Linked DNA regions of Homo sapiens: region 2 is linked to region 1. Evidence: fine-mapped expression QTL. A gene starts in region 1. The other region holds a variant in brackets. All regions are shown on one strand. Distances are from middle to middle. Region 1 holds the start of ANXA6 (annexin A6). Region 2 overlaps ANXA6 (annexin A6).

Region 1 (8,331 bases):
GCAAATTAAGAATACAAATAGCCCTGACATTTGTACACTACAGCCCATTCTGTCTCCAAACATTGCTGCAGGAATTCTCCCTTCTCTCTCCTCCATCAATTTTTTTACCTTCTATATGATAACTCCCACCAGCATACAAATATGCTGTTATGTCTTCAATCTTTAAAAAAATCAAACAAAAGCCCTTCTCTTGACACCAATTCCCTTGCCAGACACTGCCTCATTCCCTTGCTGGCCTTCGCAGCAAAACTCCCAGAATAAGTAGTTTAGGCTTTTTATCTTACACCGTTCCCATCAGGCCTTTACCCCCAACATTCTGCAATTCACAGCAAGAGATAAGTTGGCTTTCACATTGCTAAACCCAATGATAGATTTGTAGACCTTGTCCTACTTTACCTAAAAGCAGCATTTGACACACCTGATCACTCCCTTATTTTTCACTTTGCTGCCACATTCTCCTGGGGTAGTTTCCTCCCATCTTACTACAATCTCCTTCCCAGTCACCTTTGCTGAATTCTTTTCTTCTCCCCAACTCTTTTATTTTATTTTTTGAGAGTCTCACTCTGTCTCTCAGGCTGGAGTGCAATGGTGCCATCTCACTGCAATCTCCACCTCCTGGGAGTGATTCTCCTGCCTCAGCCTCCCAAGTAGCTGGGATTACAGCATGCACCACCACGTCCAGCTAACTTTTTGTATTTTTAGTAGAGATGGGGTTTAACTATGTTGGTCAGGCTGGTCTTGAACTCCTGGCCTCAAGTGATCCACCCACCTCAGCCTCCCAAAGTGCTGGAATTACAGGCATGAGCCACCGGGTCCGGCCTCTCCCCAAATGGTAACATAAGAGTGTCTCAGACTCGGTCCTTAGCATCGTGGGTGATCAGCAACTATTTGGGGCTGGCGGTACAGGCAGTAAGAAGAATTTACCAAGGCAGTTGTAGGTAAAGAAAGGCAGATTTATTAGAGAAAGTATGAAAATACATTGCTGCCAGACGTGGTGGCTCATGCCTATAATCCCAGCACTTTGGGAAGCCGAGGTGGATCACGAGGTCAGGAGTTTGAGACCAGCCTGATCAACATGGTGAAAACCCATCTCTACTAAAAATACAAATATTAGCCAGGTGTGGTGGCACGCACCTGTAATCCCAGCTACTCAGGAGCCTAAGGCAGAAGAATCGCTTGAACCCGGGAGGCGGAGGTTGTGGTGAGTCGAGATAGTGCCACTGCACTACAGTCTGGGCGACAGAGTGAGACTTCATCTCAAAAGAAAAACAGAAAAGAAAAGAAAATACGTTGCAAGGGTGCAACGGGCAAGTTAGCAAAACAGAAGCTAACTGCAAGAAAACAAAATCTGGCTAAGGATTTTATAGGATGGTGCTTGTGCTGTGTGCTGAAGAGGGCTTTGTGCAGTACTGATAACATCAAGGGTGCAGGGAGCTTGCGTGCATTTTTCTATCAGGTGAGGGTCTGGCAATAGCTGGGCGCAGATAAGATTGTGAGTTATTCGCACAGGAGGGCTATGCATCCTGGGCCATGAAGAAAGGCAGACTTATAGCTTATCTGCTTTCTCTTTTTGCTTTCCCTTGGTCCTGCCAGCCTGACTCCTTTTGCCGAACTAGGACTCCATATTTAGTTCTCTTCTCCCTTAAGGATCTCATCTCTTGAACTCCAGACTTGACTAGCCAACTGCGTACTTGACATCTCCTGTTGGGTGTCTAATAGAAATGTTCAACAAACTGGTCAAAAACTGAACTCCTGATCTTTTCCCCACTTCTAATTCCCAAAATTGCTTTCCCTGCAGTCTTGCTCATTTCAGTTGATGGTAACTCCATCCTTCCAGTGGCTCAGGCCAGGATCCCTGAAGCCATTCTTGACTCTTTCTCATCTCCCACCTGATCCTTCGGAAATCATGTTCAACCTTCAAATACATCCCATCTCCAACCACTTCCCCCACCTGCATTTATACCAGCCTGTCTCTTGCCTGGATTACTGCAAAATCTCCTAGCAGATCCCCTTCTTCTACTCTTCCCCCAACAGTATTCAGTATTTCCAACACAGGAGACTTCAGTGACCCTTTAAAAAATATGTCTTGGCCAGGTGCGGTGGCTCACACCTGTAATCCCAGCACTTTGGGAGGCCAAGGCAGGTGGATCACCTGAGGTCAGGAGTTCAAGACCAACCTGGCCAACATGATGAATCCCCGTCTCTACTAAAAAAATACAAAAATTAACTGGGCATGGTAGCAGGTGCCTGTAATCCCAGCTATTTGGGAGGCTGAGGCGGAAAGAATTGCTTGAACCCACGAGGTGAAGGTTGCAGTGAGCCGACATGGCACCACTGCACTCCAGCCTGGGCAACAGAACGAGCCTCTGTCTCAAACAAACACAAAAGTCTTATCCAGAATATAAAAAGAACTCATATAACTTAACAACAAAAAAGACAAAAAATCCAATTTAAAAATGAGCAAAAAGCATGATTAGATATTTTTCCAAAGAAGATGTACAAATAGTGGCCAATGAGCACACAAAAAAGATACTCCACATCATTAGTCAGAAGGGAAATGCAAATCAAAAACACAATTATAGATGCCATTTCATAATGACTAGAGCACAAGTTTTTTGTACTTTTGTTTTTTTGAGACAAGTTCTCACTCTGTCGCCCAGGCTGGAGTGCAGTGGTGCAATCACGGCTCACTGCAGCCTCTACCTTCCAGCTTCAAGGGATCATCCCACCTCAGCCTCTCCAGTAGCTGGGATTGCAGGCATGTGCCACTACCCCTGGTTAATTTTTTGTAGAGATGCGGTTTCGTCATGTTGTCCAGGCTGGTCTCAAACTCGTGGGCTCAAGCAATTCACCCACCTCGGCCCTCCCAAAGTACTGGCATTACAGGCATGAGCCACTGTGCCTGGCCGGGTACAAATTTTTAAAAAATAAAATACAAGTGTTGGCAAGGACATGGAGAAATTAAAAGCCTCATACATGACATGGCTGATGGGAATATAAAATGTTGCAGCCACTCTGAAAAAATGTTTGGCAGTTCCTCAAAAACTTAAATGTAGAATTACTATATGACCCAGCAGTTTCATTCCTAGGTAAATACACAACGACAATTGAAAACAGGTACTCAAATAAGTATTTGTATGCAAATGTTCATTAGCAGCACTATTCACAATCAGCAAAAGGGGGAAACAATGCACTATCCATCAACAGATGGATGGATAAACAAATTATAGTGTACTTATACAACGGAAAATTATTCAGCCATTAAAAGGAATGGAGTGCTGGACCGGACACGGTGGCGCATGCCTGTAATCCCAGCACTTTGGGAGGCAAAGGCGGGTGGATCACCTGAGGTCAGGAGTTCGAGACCAGCCTAACTAACATGGTAAAACCCCATCTCTACTAAATACAAAAATAAATTAGCCACACGTGGTGGTGCATGCCTGTAATCCCAGCTGCTCGGAAGGCTGAGGCAGGAGAATTCCTTGAATCTGAGAGGTGGAGGTTGCAGTGAGCCGAGATCACGCCATTGCACTCCAGCCTTGGCAACAAGAGCAAAACTCCAACTGAAACTAAAAAAAAAAAGGAATGGAGTGCTGATACATGCTACAGTGTGGATGAACTTCAAAAACATGCCACATGAGGCCAGGCACGGTGGCTCACGCCTGTAATCCCAGCACTTTGGGAGGCCGAGGCAGGTGGATCACCTGAGGTCGGGAGTTCAAGACCAACCTGACCAACATGGAAAAACCCCGTCTCTACTAAAAATACAGAATTAGCTGGGTGTGGTGGCGCATGCCTGTAATCCCAACTACTCGGGAGGCTGAGGCAGGAGAATTGCTTGAACCCAGGAGGCAGAAGTTGTGGTGAGCAGAGATCACGCCACTGCACTCCAGCCTGGGCGACAAGAGTGAAAAAACAACAACAAAAACAAACAAACAAAATGCCACATGAAAGAAGTCAGACAAGAAGGGTTGCATCTCATGTGATTCCATGTATATGAAATATCCAGAATAGGCACATCCGCAGAAGCAGAAAGCAAATTGGTGGTTGCCAGAGACGAGGGGTAAGGGAAAGTTAGGAGTGACTGCTCAGTGGGTATACTGTTTTATTTTTCCGTGAAGAGAATATTTTGGAACTAGATAGAGGTGGTGGATACACAACATTGTGTCTGTACAAAATGCCACTGAATTGTTGACTTTAAAATGGTTAATTTTATGTTGTGTGGATTTCATCTACCCAAAAATAATACCCTTTCTTTGCTCAATATCCTGCAATGGATCCCCAGTTGACTCAGAGTAAAAGACAGCGTGCCTTCAAGGGCCCCGGAGGTCCCACCTGATTGGGTCCCTCTTATCTCTCCTCTCCCTCCCACTCACTCCATTCCAGCCACACTGGCCCCCCTGCTGATCCTCGGAGGCGCCAGGTGGCCTCCTGCTAGGAGCATTTGCTCCAGCAGTTTCCTCTGCCTGGAACACTTTCCGCAGGTATCTGTCCAATTCTTCTAACTTCCTCATCTTCTCCTTACCAATCCCCTGGGGACAATAATTCTCAGTTTCCTCTGTATTCTCAGTTTATCAATTTTTCCTGTTCTAGCGCTGGATTACAACTGCTGGTCTCCCTGCCTGCCTTCCCTGCTTCCCAGAGCACGAAGAAGCTTGCCTCCGCAACCCACTATTTGTGTGACCTTGGTCCAGGAACTGGACTGGGCTCTCCTCCTGAAAGTGGGTAAATAATGTCACCGACCTAATGAGGCTGTTGAGGCATGGAATCTGATCAGGCAGATAAAGTGCCCCTGGCAAACCTCAATTTTCTGTTTCTCAACAAAGCTTTGGCGACTTATAAGAATTTGCGGGAAAGTGTCCAGAACCCGGAGTCAGGAGCCCTGACTTCTAGCCCTGAAGGGCCGCGTGACCTTGGCCAAAGCCCCTAATCCTTCTCAGTCTCAGATCCGGGGGCTGGAAACTGAGGAGGTTCTCCCGGCAAGCCCCTCGGGCTAGTGACATTCTAAGATTCCAAGAGCTAAGGAGCTAGAGGGGTGGGGTGGAGGAGGGAGGCGGGCGCGCCGGATTGGCCTCTGCGCGCCACGTGTCCGGCTCGGAGCCCACGGCTGTCCTCCCGGTCCGCCCCGCGCTGCGGTTGCTGCTGGGCTAACGGGCTCCGATCCAGCGAGCGCTGCGTCCTCGAGTCCCTGCGCCCGTGCGTCCGTCTGCGACCCGAGGCCTCCGCTGCGCGGTGAGTGGGCTGAGGCTGGAGAGGGGAGTCGCTCTGGGAACCCCTTCCCGGGGGCTGCAGGGACACAAGAAATAAGCGCCCAGTCATCGGCTGATGGGTACCCCCCGCCAGGAGCAGGGACGGGAGGGCGCGGTAACCCGAGAGTGTCGCAGACTGGGTGTGTCTGGGGAGCGCAGCGGAGCAAATCTGGGGTCGGGGCGGAGAGGCGCGGGCGGAGGGCGCCCTGGCTAGGGGGAGGGGAGGGAGTCCCGTTGCTGCAGAGGGTCTGGTTGAGGGTCCTGGGCGCCGGAGCTGAGCCAGGGGCTGGTCCTGCCGGCCTTAATTTGGGGGGGCTCAAGAGACTTTGAAGGTCCGGGGTTGGGGTCAGCTGGACGCCAGTCAAAGGACCCGCAGAGAAGGGTGTGGCTGAGGCCCAAGACTGAGAGCAAGAGCGTTGGACCCTCCAGCTGCTTATAAAATGGCTTGTGTGTGGTGTCGGGGGAGGGCTGCCTGCGTGCAGAGAGCTGAACGTCCGGTCGTACATACCTCAGGGCCTCATTGGACCCCATCCCCTTTGGGCCACTGCTTGTCTATGAATGCAGTCTCCCAACGGGGCTCCGAGGCCTCCTATGGTGAGGCAGGGGCACTACCCTTCTTTCTGCATCCCCTAAGCGGTCTAGGCCTTCCCAAAGTTTGGGGGCTTCAAATAATTCCCCATATACCAGCATGGGAGCAAAATACCCTGAATCGGAATCCCAGCCCCTGTTGCAGTGTGACTTTGGGCGGTGGCTTTCCCTCTCTGAGCCTGGATTTCCTTCTCCAAGTCCATAGTTGAGAAACCCAGTCTCTTTCAAAGGAAACAATGGCTTTGAAAACTGATTTATTTGTCAGCTGTATGGAATGATTGCAGGTTTGGGAGTCTTGATTATAGATTTGGGAAGCCTGGCACAACCCTTGTAGGCCCTACAAGGGGAAAGGGCAGGAGGTCCTTTGGGACAACTAATCTGGCCACGGCTTCCTGCCTCCTCCTTCCTTTCCCTAGATTCTAGTGGGTCTTCTCTGACAATTCCAAATTTGGACATATGGCTCCCGGGTTTGTGAAAGGACTCTGGTTTCCCCCCAAGAGTCCGCCCTTTTCCCTCCATTATTCCTTCCCCCTTGCCCAAAACATGCTTGGGATTGCTTCCACTGACCCAGATGGCATATCCTGACCTGCGTAGCCCTTCATGGTGAAGTGAATGACCGCCCCAGTTTCAGCCCCTGTGGACCCTGACCTCCTAGCAGGCAGGCCCTGAGCCACGCCGAGGGCACTGGCCTGGGGTCAGAGGAAAGCCCGGTTACAGTCCGGATGTGCTGGGACTTCTTGAGCAAGCCCTTTCTCTAAGGCTTTGTGCCCCATCTGGAGCAAAGTCTGCTGAACTGGCTGCCACTGCCAGTGCAGACATTCTAGGATTCAACTGTTCTAAGATTTAGGATTCTGGGAGTTGGATGGGACTGGGGAGGGCAGGAGGCAGAGGCTTTCATCCCCCTCTGCAGCTGTGACAATCACTCATCCATCTTTCTTTGCCTTATCTACCCTTTGTTCCTAAGGCAGCATCTGCTGAGATACAGAAAATACTTGCAGTTTCTGGATAAGGGCCACAGCTGTTGCTGGGGCAAAATGTAGATGTGAGTGTGCAGAGGAGGGGCCAGGGAAGCCCAAGGCCTGGCCTCTTGAGACTGACTCCTGGGATGAAGTGGGGGAGACTGCAGTGCTGGATAGCTGCCAGTGACTGGCACATCCGCACTGCAGCATCCAGAGGGAGCCCTGGGCCACCAGGATCCAGCCTCGGACCCAGCCCCTGCCCTGCCACTAATCAGCTAGGCGCCCTGGGCACACCTACTACCCCTCTGGGGCTTAGCCCCTTCCTCTCTACAGGGATAGGACATATACCCAGGACACCCCACTGGTATTAATAAAATGGGTTGGGTCTGAATGGCTTTTGCTCTACCATTCTAGGATTTTCTGGGGAGGCCCAGTGGAATCACCAGCCTCACCCCACCCAGCCTCTCCGATATACTTCCTGGGTGGCGACAAAGCACAGGATGTGGTCTCTACCGTGATTCCTGAGCATGCATGCACCCCTTCTCCTGCCAATAGAGGGGAGGAAGTCGGAGGGGTGTCTTTATGCCTATAAACTTGCCTTGGAATCCAGCCTCACTCCCTTTCCTCCTGGAGTTGAGAAGCCCCCACAGAGACTGGCTATGGGGGAGTGACTGTCTATAGGTTCCTTGGATGTCCTGCCTATCTGCAAAATGAGAATGAGATCGATACCTTCATGAGGCTGTAAGATGGCAGATATAAAAGTGCTGTGTTATCTCAAAAGGGTGTGGTGCTTGAGAAGGCAGGCGACCTGAGCCTCAAGTTCCTCTTCTGAAAAATCCATGTCCTGGTGGTCCTTAAATAATAGCAATAAAATGGTAACCACTATTACCTCTCGAACCCTTAAATTTGCCAGGCCCCGGCTGAAGCCTTGCTATGTTAGACGCTGTTATTAATGCCTATTTTGCAGACATGGAAACTCCAGCCCTTAACAGTTTAAGGAAGAAATAATAATGACAAATGCTTATAAAATATAGTGCTTCCTGTGTGCCAGGTCCTCTTCTAAGCTCTAGACTTGTCTTAATTTTTTTTATCCTCATCATAACTCCTATGAGGGAGGTGCTATTTTTATCCCTTTTTTTTTTTTTTAATATGAAACAGGCACAGAGAGGCTCAATACTTGCACAACACCACACAGCTACTAAATATCACCCTCAGGCTTCAATCTCAGGCAGTCTGGCTCCAGCATCTATACTGTGAGACACTACTTTGCTGCCTCTCACAAAAGTGACCCAAGCTGGGGTTCAAACCTAGGCTAGACTAGTTCCAATCCTGAGGCAGAGAGATGATCTCCTGAGGCCTTGTCCAGTCCTAGGATCAATGGTTCTGGGTCAGGAGAGGAAAAGACACTGCTCCCTAAGAAACCCCAGTCGTCAAGCTGGGGGGTGTGCCCACGCACAGAGCCAGGGAAGGCATTTACCCCAGCTTCATCAGAATCAAGGCTCCTGGAGGGTTATGGAGCGGGTCCTGGGTGTCTT
Region 2 (8,331 bases), 54 kb after region 1:
GGCACTGGGAACTTGAACAGATTCTCTGGAAGAATAGAACCTTGGCAGCCTCCGAAGCTACTACTGGAAAGTAAACACTGTCACAGTTCGCCTCCAGGGGTGCTGCCAAATGTGTGATTGTGCAGGAATGTCATGAGGTCTGTGCGAGGCTGCAGGAGAGGGTGAGAAAATAACTGTTGCTAGGGAAGAACCAGGAAGACTGGGGCAGGCAGGGGAGGGGGCACGCTGTCCTGCACAACTAGGGTGTATACACACACACACCACACACACACTTGACACACACACCTAACATATACAAGACACATACTATACACACACACATTCTCACATGTGACACACACTCATACATAAAACACGTTACATATGCATGTGACAGGTGCACACCACACATACACACATCACACACAGAACACATTATATATACACATACATGCTACACCCCCACAAGACACTACACCTACACACACACCACTCACACACTATGCACACATGACCCATGCACACCACATATACGCAGCACACATGCACACACATACAAGACACATACACGCTAGATGCAGATGACACACACACAGACCCTCGTCTCCTCTCAGTACCTGGCTTTTTGGTTACGCTTATATAATTTGAGCTCTTGACTTTGAAAAGGTTTTTCCCTTTTGGATCTTAATTCCACCGTGTATAAATATGGATGAGTGGATATGGGTTAGGGCTGAAGTTATTCTCATTAATATTCATCATTAGTGGTATCTTGTTTCATTTACTATAAAACACATTGCATCAATGCACTTTTAAAAAATCTTACCAAGAGGTATCCGTGGAAGATTTTCACATAATTGCCTTCAATTATAAAACACATCTTGATTTCAGAGACACTAAAATGTGGGGGAAAGGTGTGTTAGATTTGGGTGAAGTAGAGGTGGTGGTAGGGGTGTTGTTTAGCACGTGATGGGCCTTTACCACCCAGGAGCAATATCTAGGAGGCGGGATAGCCCGACGAATAAAAGCATGGAATCCAGGTTGAATCCCTGCTCTGCCACTTACTCACTATATGTCCTTGGGCAGGTCACAAAACCTCTGTGTCTCAATTTCCTCCTTTGTAAAGTGGAGATAACAACAGTGCCCAGCCCATAGGGTGGATTTTGTGAGGCTGAAATTAGTTAATTATATGTAAAGCACTTGGAACGGTGCCTCTTGGCATGTAATACTCACTGGACAAGGGTTAGTTTGTATTTGTATTGTTGTTTCCCACCAAGCCCTGCGCAAAGTTAGTTGCACGCAGGTTTAGTTACATTCTCATCAGGTGCTCTTAACCAGCTTATTTTACAAAAGAGGACACTGAGTTCAGAGAGGCTTATAGCAGTAGAACCAGGACTCAAACCACAGGCTGCCTACCTCCAAAGCTCATGTTCTTAACACCAGAATAATTAGCCTTTGGAGACACTTTCAGATTCCTACCCTCCTCGTGTATTTCCCTCTTCCCTTTCTCCTCCCACCTTGAACAGGTATACACGTGCAAACACACACCACAACACACCATTTCACACTCCTCCATCCAATGGCAGGCATCGGGGTCCCATGTGACAGATGGACAGGCTCAGTTTTTAGGAAGACTTGTGGGGTTGGTTACAGAGGAGAGAAGTTTCTGCCCAGCGTGCTTCTTAGCCAGACTGATAAAGCCCTAGGTCTGAAGTCAGGGAAGGCTTCCTGGAGGTGATGTCATGACTGGGGGCATGGACATCAAGTACAGCCTTGAAGGATGGGATTTGATTTAGAGAGATAATGTAGTGAAGGGCAGATAGGAAATGCATCTATCCAGGAAGGACAGAGAGACACAGGAATTTGCAGTTTGTTCTGGGAATGGGGGAGCAAGGGCCATGAGGTTGCAAAGGAGGCCAGGAGCTTTGACATTCAAGCCAAGGAGCTTGGGATTTGTTTGGGAGGTAGTAGGGAGATATGTAAGGAGCTGGAGATGGGAGGTGTGTGATGTGATCTTTTCCACAGGGTTCCTGAGCCTGTTGCAGAGGAGTCTTGCTTGACTCTGCCACTGGGGTACGCAACTCCAGCCTCTTGCCGTCTGTTCTCATTATATCCAGAGTCATTCCAGCTATAGTACTGGTGTCTGGTTCCTCCTTTTTAAGCTGTCTGAGACACCTGTGCGTGGGCTCTGGAGCCTTGCAGTCAAGCAGCTGTGAAGGGCTAGAGAACCCTAGGCTTTGAGAAAGGGCGGGGTTGGTGAAACCAGGCAGGCATTATCTGCAGCCAGGGTAGGGAGCAGGGGCTGCCAATCCTGCAAGATTGTTCAGGCCCTGGGGAAACACTCAGCCCCAGGGATTTGCATGGTCCCTTAAATTTTACCAACGGACAGTCATTCTTTGGAGCAATATTTCTCTAAATCAGTAACTCTCAAGCATTAGGCTGCACCAGAGTAGGGTGGCCAACCATCCTGATTTGCGCAAGGCTTTCAGTGCTGTTAGGTTGGTGCAAAAGTCATTGCAGTTTTGCCATTGAAAGTGATGGCAAAAATTGTAATTACTTTGGCACCAACCTAATAAAACCTGGAGTGTCCCAGGCAAACTAGGACAAGCTGGTCACTCACCTCTAGAGTTTCAGATTCAGCATCTCTGGAATCTGGAATCTGAGGCATGAGAATCTGCCTTTCTTCCAAGTTTTCAAGTGATGCTAATGTTGTTGGTCCGGAAACCACACTTTGAGAACCACTGCTCAAAATCTTTCCAAAATCTGAATCTTTAGGGTGGAGCCTAAACCCTGAGTTTTAAACAAGCTTTTTGGGTGATTCCAATGCATTTAAAAATTTGAGGCCCCGTGCCTTGGGTTCATGAGGAGTTAATTACCTTTGAATCCTCTCCTGACCTTGGTTAGCTGTAAGCACCTTAGAAGGAAGAGAGTTGCAACCAATTGAGAGCCAGGCCTAAGGATGGGCCAGAGGAGGAAGCATGGGGAAGGGGAGCAAAGGTGTCGTCTGAGCATGACCCTGGGGTTGACAATGATCTGCAGACCCATGCAGGGATAGACGAGGTGGGGAGATGGGGGAGGCCGGTCCAGAGTCTGGGTTCACAGCCTCTGACCACGTTCCCCGCATCTCTCTGCTCTTCCTACCAGTTCAAAGTGTCAAGAACAAGCCTCTCTTCTTTGCCGACAAACTTTACAAATCCATGAAGGTAAGAAAACATGCTGGCGTTCCTTTCCCTTCAAGCACTGACTTACATACACACACAAACACACAGATGTGCACCATCCCCCAGATCAGGATTCCTGGCAGCTGTTTCTTCCCATTTGACATTTATTAGCATCTGCCCTTGTCTGGCTCTAGGATGGTATTTCCCAGTTGGGGGTGATTTCCCCCGCCTTCCCCCGCCCCGGAGGATATTTGGCAATATCCAGACACATTTTTGGTCATCACAACTTGGAGATTGTTGCTACCAGCATCTGGTGGGGACAGAACAGGGATGCTGTTAAACAACCTCAGTGCAAAGGATAAGCTTGCGCAACAAAGAATTATCCAGCCCCAAATGCCAAGGTTGAGAAATGTGCTCTGGAGGCACACAGGGCTGGGTAGGACACAGTCTCTGCCCTCTCAGAGCTCACAATCTATCCGGGGACACAGGGTCTCCTAGGACAAATAGTCATCAAAGGTCACAAGCGCTCCCCTCTGAGTCTAGTCCTGCCCTTCTGGGAGAGCCCAAGCCACACTGGCCACCCTCTCAGCCACTGGAGTCTCAACTGCAGATAGCCTGGGCAGGTGGGAGGGTAGGAAGGAACCTGAGACCCTCACCCTACAGTCTCCAAATGTGACAGCCATTCATTGAGCACTCACGATGTGTCAAGCCTGTGCCAAGGGCTTCATCTCTCTGACCACAGCTGACCCTCATGGCAGTCCTGTGAAATTGTGGTAGCATCCTCATTTGATAGAGGAGGAAACTCAGGCCTAGGTAGGGTAAAACGTTGCCCACATTTACATAGCTCCTAAGAGGCAGAGCTGGGACTCGAACCTAGCTCTGACTCCTAGGCTGGTGCTTGTCGCTCCCTGGGGGCAGAGGCAGCTCTGGCTGCCCACACATTCCATGCCCTGTGCCTGCTCCTTGGGCCCGGTGGTAGTTTCCTAGGGCTGGTGTAACACATTCCAGAAATTGGGTGACAAAAGAAATTTATTCTCATAGTTCTGGAGGCCAAAAGCCCAAAATCAAGGTGTCGCCTGGGTTGGGTCCTCCTGGAGGCTCTGGGGGAGAAGCACTCCCCTGCCTCTCCTAGCTTCTGGTGGTTGCCAGAAGTCCTTGGTGTTTCCTGGCTGTGAATGCATCACTCCGGTCTCTGCCTCTGTCCTCACCTAGCCACTTTTCTGTGTGTATGTCTGTGCCCTCCCTCTTCTAAAGATATTGGTTATTGGTTTAGGCTTCAATCTAATTCAGTATGCCTTCATCTTAACTAATTACATGTGCAAATACCTTATTTCCAAATTACATCATGTTCTGAGTTTCCAGGTGGACATGGGGACACTATTCAACCCACACACATCTTTTTTGCGTGTCAGTCTGGCCAGTCCTGGGCACAGAGGGATTTTGGTCAGGACTGTTTGCAGAAGACAGAGGTGGAACATCCGCCCTGTTTTTGGAAGGAACAAGGGAGAAAGGCAGATGGGATACCACTGTTTCTTGCCTGACTGGGCTCTATCTCTCCTTCCGCCTGTGTCTCCCTCCTGCCTGGCTCCACCAGGGTGCTGGCACAGATGAGAAGACTCTGACCAGGATCATGGTATCCCGCAGTGAGATTGACCTGCTCAACATCCGGAGGGAATTCATTGAGAAATATGACAAGTCTCTCCACCAAGCCATTGAGGTAAGGGGAGGGGCTAGAGGTTAGCAGGAAGCGGG[T/C]GAGTGTCAGATCCCTAATATAAGATTAGAAGTCTTTATTCCCATGGACTTTTTTCCAGTGGGTTACCGCTTAGAACAGCCAGGATATTGAAATGAAAGGGGGTCTGTATTGCATTGTTTATACCGAAATCAATTCCAAAAGAATCAAAGGTTTATAATTAAAGATTTCCAAATAAAACAAGAGCCCATTTTTTGCTTTTTTTAAAGCAATGTTATGGAAGTATAACTTACATATCATGGGCAGGCATGGTGGCTCACACCTGTAATCACAGCACGTTGGAAGGCCAAGGCAGGTGGATCACTTGAGGTCAGGAGTTCAAGACCAGCCTGGCCAACATGGTGAAACCCTGTCTCTACTAAAAATACAAAAATTAGCTGGGTGTGTTGGCTCATGCCTGTAATCCCAGCTACTCAGGAGGCTGAGGCAAGAGAATCGCTTGAACCCAGGAGGTAGAGGTTGCAGTGAGCTGAGATCACGCCACTGCACTCCAGCCTGGGCAACAGAGCAAGACTCCATCTCAAAAACAGACAAACAAACAAACGAAAAACTTACATATCATAAAATTCACCTGTTTTAAGGGTACAATTCAACAGTTTTTAGTAAATTTACTGAGTTGTACAACCATTCCCATAATGCAGCTGGTTTCCAAACACTTCTATCATCCCACTAAGCTCTCTCATACCTGTTTATCTAGTTCCATCCCCAGCCATAGGCAACCACCAAGCTACTTTGTGTCTCTGTAGATTTGCCTTTTCTGAATATTTCATATAAATGGAATCACCTAATATGTGACCCTTTGTGTCTGACTTTTTGTTTGTTTGTTTGTTTTTGAGACGGAGTCTTGCTCTGTCGCCCAGGCTGGAGTGCAGCAGTGCCATCTCATCTCACTGCAACGTCCACCTCCTGGGTTTAAGCAATTCTCCTGCCTCAGCCTCCCGAGTAGCTGGGACTGCAGGCATGCATCACTATGCCTGGCTAATTTTTGTATTTTTAGTACAGACAGGGTTTCACTGTGTTGGCCAGGCTGGTTGCTAGCTCCTGACCTCAAGTGATCCACCTGCCTTGGCCTCCCAAAGTGCTGGGATTACAGGTGTGAGCCACCACACCTGGCTGCGTCTGACTTTTTTGACATATGGAGCTTATATTTTTGCTCTTTGAGATCAGCCAAGATCTTAAAGTCTGATGCTTGGTTCTACTTGGCTAACGAGACTATGGGCATCTCAGAGGCAGTCTCTTACAGACTTAGTAGGAATGTAAGTAAATTGTTGGCACATTTTGATACTATATTATGTTTTAAAATCATACATCAAAAAATACAAGGACAAACAAAATCCCGAAAACCATGTCTCATAACAATGATAGGAGTCCCTCAGAAGGGAGATCCATACCATACCATGGGTCAGGAAGTTTGGCCTCCCCAGTCTGAACGTATACCAGACCACTGTGATGTGTGGTGAGCGTGATGGTGTTTGTACCCATTCCCAGCAATGGCTTGGCAGTTAGCACTCAATGTTGTTTGTTCAAATAAGAAATCACCTAACACGATATGCCAAGGGCCATGGGGGAGGGTATCAGCAGAGTGCCAGGGGAACCAAGGGAGGCCAGAGTTCACTGTGCCTCCTGACGCAAGAGAGTGGCCAGAGTGCTTCTCAGAGGAGAGGGCCCTGCTGGCAAATGGGATTGGGGGTGCACAGGGGCATGTTGGACAGGGGAGTGACAGGTGGAGAGAGGACTGAGATGCTCCTGGGGGAAAGGAACAGGTGAAGCTGCAGAGCTCTGCACAGGTCAGATCCCAAAGGGCCTTGAAGCCAGGCCGGGAGCTTGCATATCTTCCTGGGGATAAACAAAAGGGACGTGGTCACATTTATGTGTCTGGGAGATCCCAGTAGCCTACATGTGGCATGGGATCCTATGTTGGTCATGGAGAGAAGCCGAGGGAGATGTCCAGACAGATGGGCAGCCGGGAGGAGGGGGCATTGAGACTGGAAGGACTGTTTTCACTCACTCTGCTCTCTGCCTCTGCCAGGGTGACACCTCCGGAGACTTCCTGAAGGCCTTGCTGGCTCTCTGTGGTGGTGAGGACTAGGGCCACAGCTTTGGCGGGCACTTCTGCCAAGAAATGGTTATCAGCACCAGCCGCCATGGCCAAGCCTGATTGTTCCAGCTCCAGAGACTAAGGAAGGGGCAGGGGTGGGGGGAGGGGTTGGGTTGGGCTCTTATCTTCAGTGGAGCTTAGGAAACGCTCCCACTCCCACGGGCCATCGAGGGCCCAGCACGGCTGAGCGGCTGAAAAACCGTAGCCATAGATCCTGTCCACCTCCACTCCCCTCTGACCCTCAGGCTTTCCCAGCTTCCTCCCCTTGCTACAGCCTCTGCCCTGGTTTGGGCTATGTCAGATCCAAAAACATCCTGAACCTCTGTCTGTAAAATGAGTAGTGTCTGTACTTTGAATGAGGGGGTTGGTGGCAGGGGCCAGTTGAATGTGCTGGGCGGGGTGGTGGGAAGGATAGTAAATGTGCTGGGGCAAACTGACAAATCTTCCCATCCATTTCACCACCCATCTCCATCCAGGCCGCGCTAGAGTACTGGACCAGGAATTTGGATGCCTGGGTTCAAATCTGCATCTGCCATGCACTTGTTTCTGACCTTAGGCCAGCCCCTTTCCCTCCCTGAGTCTCTATTTTCTTATCTACAATGAGACAGTTGGACAAAAAAATCTTGGCTTCCCTTCTAACATTAACTTCCTAAAGTATGCCTCCGATTCATTCCCTTGACACTTTTTATTTCTAAGGAAGAAATAAAAAGAGATACACAAACACATAAACACATTTCCAGTGAGGGCCTCTGTCTTCTACCTAGAGCCTGCAGCCTGGATTTTCCTCATTAGAGCTTGAGGTTGTAAAGTCTGTCCAGGAGCGAGTTACGTCTTTAAATTCTTGCAAGGTGTTTCCCGGGAAGCGCACAGGAGAATCTGAGTTTGCAGCAAGCCTGGGAAGGCTGGCCCAGCCCTGCTCCGGGCCTCAGGTTCCCCCTCATCCCCTCTCGCTGTCTGGACATTTCTGTATGCTCTTCATCCATTTCAACCAAGCCCAAACTTCCTCTTTTGAACTATGCAAGGGTGCCCGATGTGATCTTGATCTGGAGAGGTGCATGGAAAGTTTCCTTCATGCAGGTCACTGATAAGCAAGTAGGCGCAACTGCAGTTCCTCTGCCTTCCCTCCCCCGCTGCCCTACTTCTGGTCTGTGGCTTTGGTCTAAGATTGTCCAGTGACCATGGCATGGGGCTGGCTGCTGGCCAAAGGGCACTTCTCCCTACCCTGGCTGACCAGACTAGTTTATTGCAGGTTAGCGCGTGTTTGTTTTCTTTTCTTTCTTTTCTTTTTCTTCTTTTTTTTTTTTTTTGAGATGGACTTTCGCTCTTGTTGCCCAGGCTGGAGTGCA

What was found.
Region 2: its variant is fine-mapped to the expression of ANXA6 in whole blood (INTERVAL, PIP 0.97).

The regions. Positions count from the first base shown.
Region 1 is chr5:151,154,581-151,162,911 of GRCh38, reverse strand. It overlaps ANXA6 (annexin A6), which reads left to right and starts at 5,133. Exons shown (of 26, transcript NM_001155.5): 1 at 5,133-5,232. RefSeq lists a silencer at 4,261-4,320 and an enhancer at 4,116-4,972.
Region 2 is chr5:151,100,093-151,108,423 of GRCh38, reverse strand. It overlaps ANXA6 (annexin A6), which reads left to right. Exons shown (of 26, transcript NM_001155.5): 24 at 3,121-3,179; 25 at 4,732-4,854; 26 at 6,917-7,718. The coding sequence ends at 6,976. Among named protein-coding and RNA genes, the nearest start is that of TNIP1, 23 kb to the right of the region's middle. The variant T/C (reference allele first, on the strand shown) is at 4,890.